Linked DNA regions of Homo sapiens. The protein of the gene in region 1 interacts with the protein of each later gene in a pairwise test. Each region holds a gene or a part of one and is shown in the gene's direction. Other genes may lie near its edges.

The links. The genes of interacting proteins can lie anywhere in the genome.
Region 2: the proteins of PRM2 (region 1) and SEPTIN12 interact in a two-hybrid assay, tested with the Homo sapiens proteins (one study listed by IntAct).

What each region holds. Positions count from the first base shown.
Region 1 is NC_000016.10:11,275,018-11,278,132, reverse strand, and holds PRM2 (protamine-2), read left to right. Parts: upstream 1-1,652; 5' UTR 1,653-1,762; coding exon 1,763-2,033; coding exon of another isoform or gene 2,034-2,071; exon of another isoform or gene 2,072-2,080; intron 2,081-2,151; coding exon of another isoform or gene 2,152-2,195; coding exon 2,196-2,233; coding exon of another isoform or gene 2,234-2,303; 3' UTR 2,304-2,494; downstream 2,495-3,115.
Region 2 is NC_000016.10:4,786,254-4,790,002, reverse strand, and holds the start of SEPTIN12 (septin-12), read left to right. Parts: upstream 1-1,657; 5' UTR 1,658-1,723; exon of another isoform or gene 1,724-2,086; intron 2,087-2,335; 5' UTR 2,336-2,357; coding exon 2,358-2,523; exon of another isoform or gene 2,524-2,534; intron 2,535-3,749. UniProt on the Homo sapiens protein: Filament-forming cytoskeletal GTPase. Involved in spermatogenesis. Involved in the morphogenesis of sperm heads and the elongation of sperm tails probably implicating the association with alpha- and beta-tubulins.

The sequences.
Region 1 (3,115 bases):
CACGCGCCCTCGAAGAGCTTGAGGGCCATCATAAAGGACCTTCTTATCCCTAAAGAGAGGCAGCATAGAAACACCAAGGGCATGGCAATATCACCCATCACCTCCTGTAAGGATCTGAAGATTAAGCCTCCTGAATTTGTTTCTTATTGCCACTGTGACAGATCATCACAAATTTTGTAGCTTTAAACAACATAAATGCATTATCTTACAGGTCTGCAGGTCAGAATTCTGAAAGAAGTCTCATGGGGCTAAAATCAAGGGGTCAGCAGGGCTGTGTTCCTCCTGGATGCACGAGGGGAGGATAACCCATTTCCTTGTCCATCCCAGCTTCTAGAGGCCGCCTGCATCCCTTGGCTTATAGCCTCTCCCTCCATCTTCAAAGCCAGCAGTGTGGTGTCTCCCAGTTTCTCTTCCTGTGACCCTCCTGCCTCCCTATTCTCTCTTCTAAGGACCCTCGTGACTGCACTGGGCCAACCCAGATCATCTGGGATGATCTCTGCATCTTCAAGTCCTTAAATTTGTGTATCTGCCACATTCCCACATTCTCCCTGCCCTCCATGAAAGGGAAACTGGTTTTGCAGTTTCTGTGATTCTGATCCCGGACTTTAATGGGATCATCAAAGTTCAATGAGAAGCCCCGGCAAGGCCGAGCGGGAGGGGAGAAGATGAATATTTTGGAGGCGGAGAGGGGAGCATTCCCTGGGCTAGGGAGGAGGTGGAGAGCCAAGGGTATGACTAAAACCAGGCTGTCTCCGTCTGAATGCTGGCCCGGCCTGGCCTTCTCAGCAGAGTGGCCTTGAGCAACTCAACTTCTTCATGCCTGTTTGCCCCACAGAAAATGAGGATTGTAAGAGTGAGGAATGCAAGGGTGGTGGCTCACACCTGTAATCCCAGCACTCTGGGAGGCCGACATGGGAGGCTCACTGAGGCCAGGAGTGTGAGACCAGCCAGGGCAACATGGTGAAACCCTATCTATCTCCACAAAAAATACAAAAAATTAGCTGGGAGTGGCAGCACACGCCTATAGTCCCAGCTACTCGGGAGGCTGAGGTGGCAGGATCATCTGAGCTGGAGGGGTAGAGGCTGCTATGATCCATGATTGCACAACTGCACTCCAGCCTGGGCGACAGACAGTGCCTCAAAACAAAAAGAGGAGAGAGAGAGAGAGAGAGAGAGAGAGAGAGAATGAGTGAATGTATGGGAAATAAATGAATCAATGCTTGGCACATAGGAGCTATTAGGGAACTGTTTGCTGCTGTTGCCATCTTAACAGTAAGCTGTGTGCACAGAGATCCAAGCACGGAAGTCCCTTCCACATGGTGGCTGTGGCACAGCAGTGAGTTGGCAAGGAAGCTTCCAAATGACAATGTGCGCACCCACCGGCTTGGGGAGATGAGGGCTTGGATTAGGCAATAAAACACCTGCCATCTGTATGGTTCACCTACTGCAAGAGACAGAGGACATGCTTTACAGGCAAGGCAAGGGGGTCTCTCGCCCTTCCAGCCCTGCAGCTTGGGTGCCAGGGCCCTGCTAGTTGTGACCCCTGGCCCTGTGCTGCCCTCACAGAGGAGGCTGGGCAGGGTGGGGACTGGGCGGGGCCGCAGAGTCATAGTGGGCGCCCCCTTTATATACAAGCTCCCGGGGAGCCTTGCAGACCAGACCAACAGTAACACCAAGGGCAGGTGGGCAGGCCTCCGCCCTCCTCCCCTACTCCAGGGCCCACTGCAGCCTCAGCCCAGGAGCCACCAGATCTCCCAACACCATGGTCCGATACCGCGTGAGGAGCCTGAGCGAACGCTCGCACGAGGTGTACAGGCAGCAGTTGCATGGGCAAGAGCAAGGACACCACGGCCAAGAGGAGCAAGGGCTGAGCCCGGAGCACGTCGAGGTCTACGAGAGGACCCATGGCCAGTCTCACTATAGGCGCAGACACTGCTCTCGAAGGAGGCTGCACCGGATCCACAGGCGGCAGCATCGCTCCTGCAGAAGGCGCAAAAGACGCTCCTGCAGGCACCGGAGGAGGCATCGCAGAGGTCTGCCTGCGCCCCCGCCTTGCCCTGCATGTCCCTGACCACCCCAGGCACAGGAGGGAGGCGGGGACCCACCCCACCTGACAAAAGCTCCAGCCCCCTAACCCCCGTCCCCACCCAGAGTCCCTAGGTGACCCCCTCAACCAGAACTTTCTTTCCCAAAAGGCTGCAGAACCAGGAAGAGAACATGCAGAAGGCACTAAGCTTCCTGGGCCCCTCACCCCCAGCTGGAAATTAAGAAAAAGTCGCCCGAAACACCAAGTGAGGCCATAGCAATTCCCCTACATCAAATGCTCAAGCCCCCAGCTGGAAGTTAAGAGAAAGTCACCTGCCCAAGAAACACCGAGTGAGGCCATAGCAACTCCCCTACATCAAATGCTCAAGCCCTGAGTTGCCGCCGAGAAGCCCACAAGATCTGAGTGAAACGAGCAAAAGTCACCTGCCCAATAAAGCTTGACAAGACACTCGCTGGCCTGTCGGGTTTTCTTTGCACGAATCACACAAACCTGGCTTCCCTCACGCCCAGGGCGGGTAGAGGCTTCTCTGCAGCCCTTCCTCAGAGGCAGGTAGGGCGGGAGTTCTGATGCTCTCAGGACACCTAGGAGAGGGTTACTGTGCCTGGGAGGCCACCCTATGATGCTGTCCTGTCTATTGTGCATCCTTCCATGGTGTCAAAGGCCACATTAGTCTGTCTGGATCCCCCTCCAGTGAAGAACCTGATCCTACCTCATGAAAGGAGAAAATGGTTAGAACAGATCGAGTCCTAATTAAGTCACAAAGATGCCAAGGCACCTTGTGGCCATATTTAAATGCCTACTGTGTGCCACAGTTTAAAAACACAACCCATCTTGAGTGTTGGGTGGTTGGAAGTGTAAACGGTGGGGGCAGAGGTGGGGGCACTGCTCAGTGCAGGCCACAGCTTCGAGGTGGGAAACAGGTCTGGCATGCTCCAGCAACAACTTGGTCAGCACAGAGACGGCAAAAGGCAAGGAGTAGATGAATGCAGAGTAATGGGCTGCGCTGTGTGAGGCCTGTGCTGGCTGAAGCCTCTGGAGACCCAGGCAGAATCCGATCCTTGTTGCCTG
Region 2 (3,749 bases), 6.5 Mb from region 1:
GTCGAGGCTGCAGTGAGCTGTCATTGTGCCTCTGCACTCCAACTTGGGTGACAAAGTGAGACCCTGTCCCAAAAAAGAAAAAAAAAAAAGAAAGAAAAGAAAGGAGAAAAGAAAGAAAAAAGAAAGAGAAAACATTTGCCAATAGCAAGGACACAGGAATGCCTAAGCCTTGTGAAGTCAAGTACCAGGAAACAAGAAAGAATTAACTGTGTGAGATGGACTTGGTATAAGAAACAGCTTATCAGGCTGGGCATGGTGGTTCACGTCTGTAATCTCAGCATTTAGGGAGGCTGAGGTGAGAGGATCACTAGAACCCAGGAGTTTGAGACCAGCATGGGCAACATAGTGAGACCGTGTCTCAAAAAAATTTTAAAAAGGGCTGGGCGCAGGGGCTAACGCCTGTAATCCCAGCACTTTGGGAGGCCGAGGAGGGCAGATCACGAGATCAGGAGATCGAGACCATCCTGGCTAACACAGGGAAAACCAGTCTCTACTAAAAATAGGAAAAAATTAGCCGGGCGTGGTGGCAGGCGCCTGTAGTCCCAGCTACTCGGGAGGCTGAGGCAGGAGAGCGGCGTGAACCCGGGAGGCAGAGCTTACAGTGAGCCGAGATCATGCCACTAAACTCCAGCCTGGGTGACAGAGCGAGACTCCGTCTCAAAAAAAAAAAGAAAAAAAGGAAAAAAGAAAAAAAAAGGCCAGGCATGGTGGCTCACTAATCCCAACACTTTGGGAGACCAGGGTTGGTGGATCACTTGAGGTCAGAAGCTTGTGACTAGCCTGACCAATGTGGTGAAACCCCTTCTCTACTAAAAATACAAAATTAGCGTGGTGGTGCACACCGGTAATCCAGCTACTTGGGAGGCTGAGGCAAGAGAATTGCTTGAACCCAGGAGGCGGAGGTTGCAGTGAGCCGAGATCGCGCCACTGCATTCCAGCAAGGGCAACAGAGCGAGGCTGTCTCAAAAACAAACAACAAAAAAAGAAACAGCTTATCAGAGAGACAGTAAGGCAGGGGTGAGGACCACAGTCTGGAAAGCACATGGCCTATTTAAAGAGGGCATCTCAAGTCAGGGTGATAACCTCTAAGATACACCGGAAATCTAGATGTTTCTGTAAACCAGAAAAAGGCAGTAGAGGGTGAGCACACAGACTCAGAGCGGCAGAGACTCTGCCACCTCCTCACCTGACCCTCTCTTATCTATCAGCTTGGGGTAGTAACAGCACTTACTTCACAGGGCTTGATTATTAAACAAGTTAACATCTTTGGGCTCCTAGAACGATGCCATGTGCAGAGTCAGGACTGGGTAAATATTTGCTAAAGCAATCTCTTCATGTTTTTGACGCTGCAACTTAAAACACATGGCGCCAATCGTGGACACGGATATCCCGCTAGCCAGCTGTGGGGCCTGGGTTTGCTCACCCCAGCAGAGTGGTTGAGGGCGTCAGCTTGGAGGTGGGAGCCCAGCTGACGAGGGGGCCTTGGGCCCCTGGTTCTACTTGGGGATTATTGTATTATTAGGCTGGGGTCATTGTGGGGATTAGAAGGGTAACAGCTCCTGCTCCTGCTGCAGAGAAGCCTCCAGGTGGGGGTCACAGCAAGTGCAGATGGAGCTCAGATTCTTCGGTTAACTGTCACCCTCTCCCCTCCCCCATCACACACACCAGGCCCTGCCAGGACAAGGCAGCTCCTGGAAGCTCCACCAGGACCCACGTCCACCAGGTGTCACAGCAGGCTGCTTCTCTCTCTCTCTGCCCCCCGTGGGCTCTTCGCACCGCTCCCTCCCAGCCATCTTCCCTGCCTGACCTTGGTCTCTCTCTCTCTGTCTCCGTCACCTTCATGCCTGTGCCGTCTTTCTCGCTCTCTATCAACTCTGCTGTGTGTCCCCCTGGGGAAAGTGGGGGCACCTCCTCCTGAGCCCCCTGCCCAAGTTTCCTGCTGGGACGGGAGCCACTTCACCCCATACACACTCCCTGAAGCCCCTCCAGGACTCCAGCCTGGCTGCAAACACCCATCCTGGACTTTGCCTGGCCCTCCAGGCTCTGCTGGGGGAAGCGACCTGAGAGGCCCCTGCCTGGGCTGTAGGTGGGGACAGGGCAGACCCTTGGGCAGCGGAGCCTCTCTGGATGGGTGTTGAGGCACCCTGCAGAAACAGCTCCCCACAGGCACCCTTGCCACACCCCTGGGACTACAGGCACTTAGGGTACACCAGAGGCATGAAGTGTGGAGGGGGTTGGCCAACGGCCAAGCTCAAATAGGGGTTCAGATAGGAGAGGTCAATGTGGGCTCCTCTGAGCCCCAGTGACCCCCTTCTCCCCACCCACCTGGTGACAGGCATCTCGAACCCTTGGCCCCCATGGACCCCCTGAGGCGCTCCCCCTCTCCCTGCCTGTCCTCGCAGCCCTCCAGCCCCAGCACCCCACCCTGCGAGATGCTTGGTCCTGTGGGCATTGAGGCTGTGCTGGACCAGCTGAAGATCAAGGCTATGAAGATGGGGTTTGAGTTCAACATCATGGTGGTGGGTGAGTGAGAGGTAGGGCCCACGGCAGGACAGACCCACAGTGCTACGCGTGCCTGGGCGTGTGGCCTCACCTTTGGCAGCCTGTCGCCCCTCCCCATCTCTTAGGTGGGCCTGATAATAGCACCTCACAGGGATGTTGTCATTGAAAATTTGAGAAATGCTGAGTCATTAAAAGACAAAAATGTGCCTGGAGCGGTGGCTCACACCTATAATCCAGGGTTTTGGGAGACTGAGGTGGGTGGATCACTTGAGCTCAGGAGTTTGAGACTAGCAAAACCTAATGTCTACAAAAAGTACAAAAATGAGGCCGGGCATGGTGGCTCAAGCCTGTAATTCCAGCACTTTGAAAGGCCAAGGCAGGAGGGTCACTTGAGGTCAGGAGTTCGAAAACAGCCTGGCCAACATGGGGAAACTCCGTCTCTACTAAAAATACAAAAATTTGCCAGGCGTGGTGGTGGGCGCCTGTACTTAGGAGCTACTTAGGAGGCTAAGGCAGGAGAATTGCTTGAACCTGGGAGGCAGATGTTGTAGTGAGCCGAGATTGCGCCACTGTACTCCAGCCTGGGTGACAGAGCAAGACTGAAGCAGAAGGATCCCTGGAGGCCAGGAGTTCATGACCAGCCTAGGCAACACAGCAAGACCCCATCTCTACAAAAAAAATTTAAAAATTAGCCAGGCATGGTGACATGCACCTGAATCCCAGCTACTTGGGGGGCTGAGGTGGGAGGATCGTTTGAACCTGAGGGTGGAGGTTGCAGTGAGCTGCGATCACTTGAGTCTGGGTGACAGATTGAGACCCTGTCTTAAAAATTAAAAAACAGTGCAAGGCCGGGTGTGGTGGCTCACGCCTGTAATCCCAGCACTTTGGGAGGCTGAGGCAGGCGGATCATGAGGTCAGGAAATCAAGACCATCCTGGCTAACATGGTGAAACCCCGTCTCTACTAAAAATACAAAAAAATTAGCCAGGCGTGGTGGCGGGCGCCTGTAGTCCCAGCTACTTGGGAGGCTGAGACAGGGGAATGGCGTGAATCTGGGAGGCGGAGCTTGCAGTGAACCGAGATCCCACCATCGCGCTCCAGCCTGGGTGACAGAGCGAGACTGCGTCTCAAAAAAAAAAAAAAAAAAAGCAGTGCAAAAATCAGCTGGGTATGGTGGCGTGTGCCTACAGTCCCAGCTACTAGGGAGGCCGAGGTGCGAGAATCACTAGAGTCTGGGAAGGTCGAGGC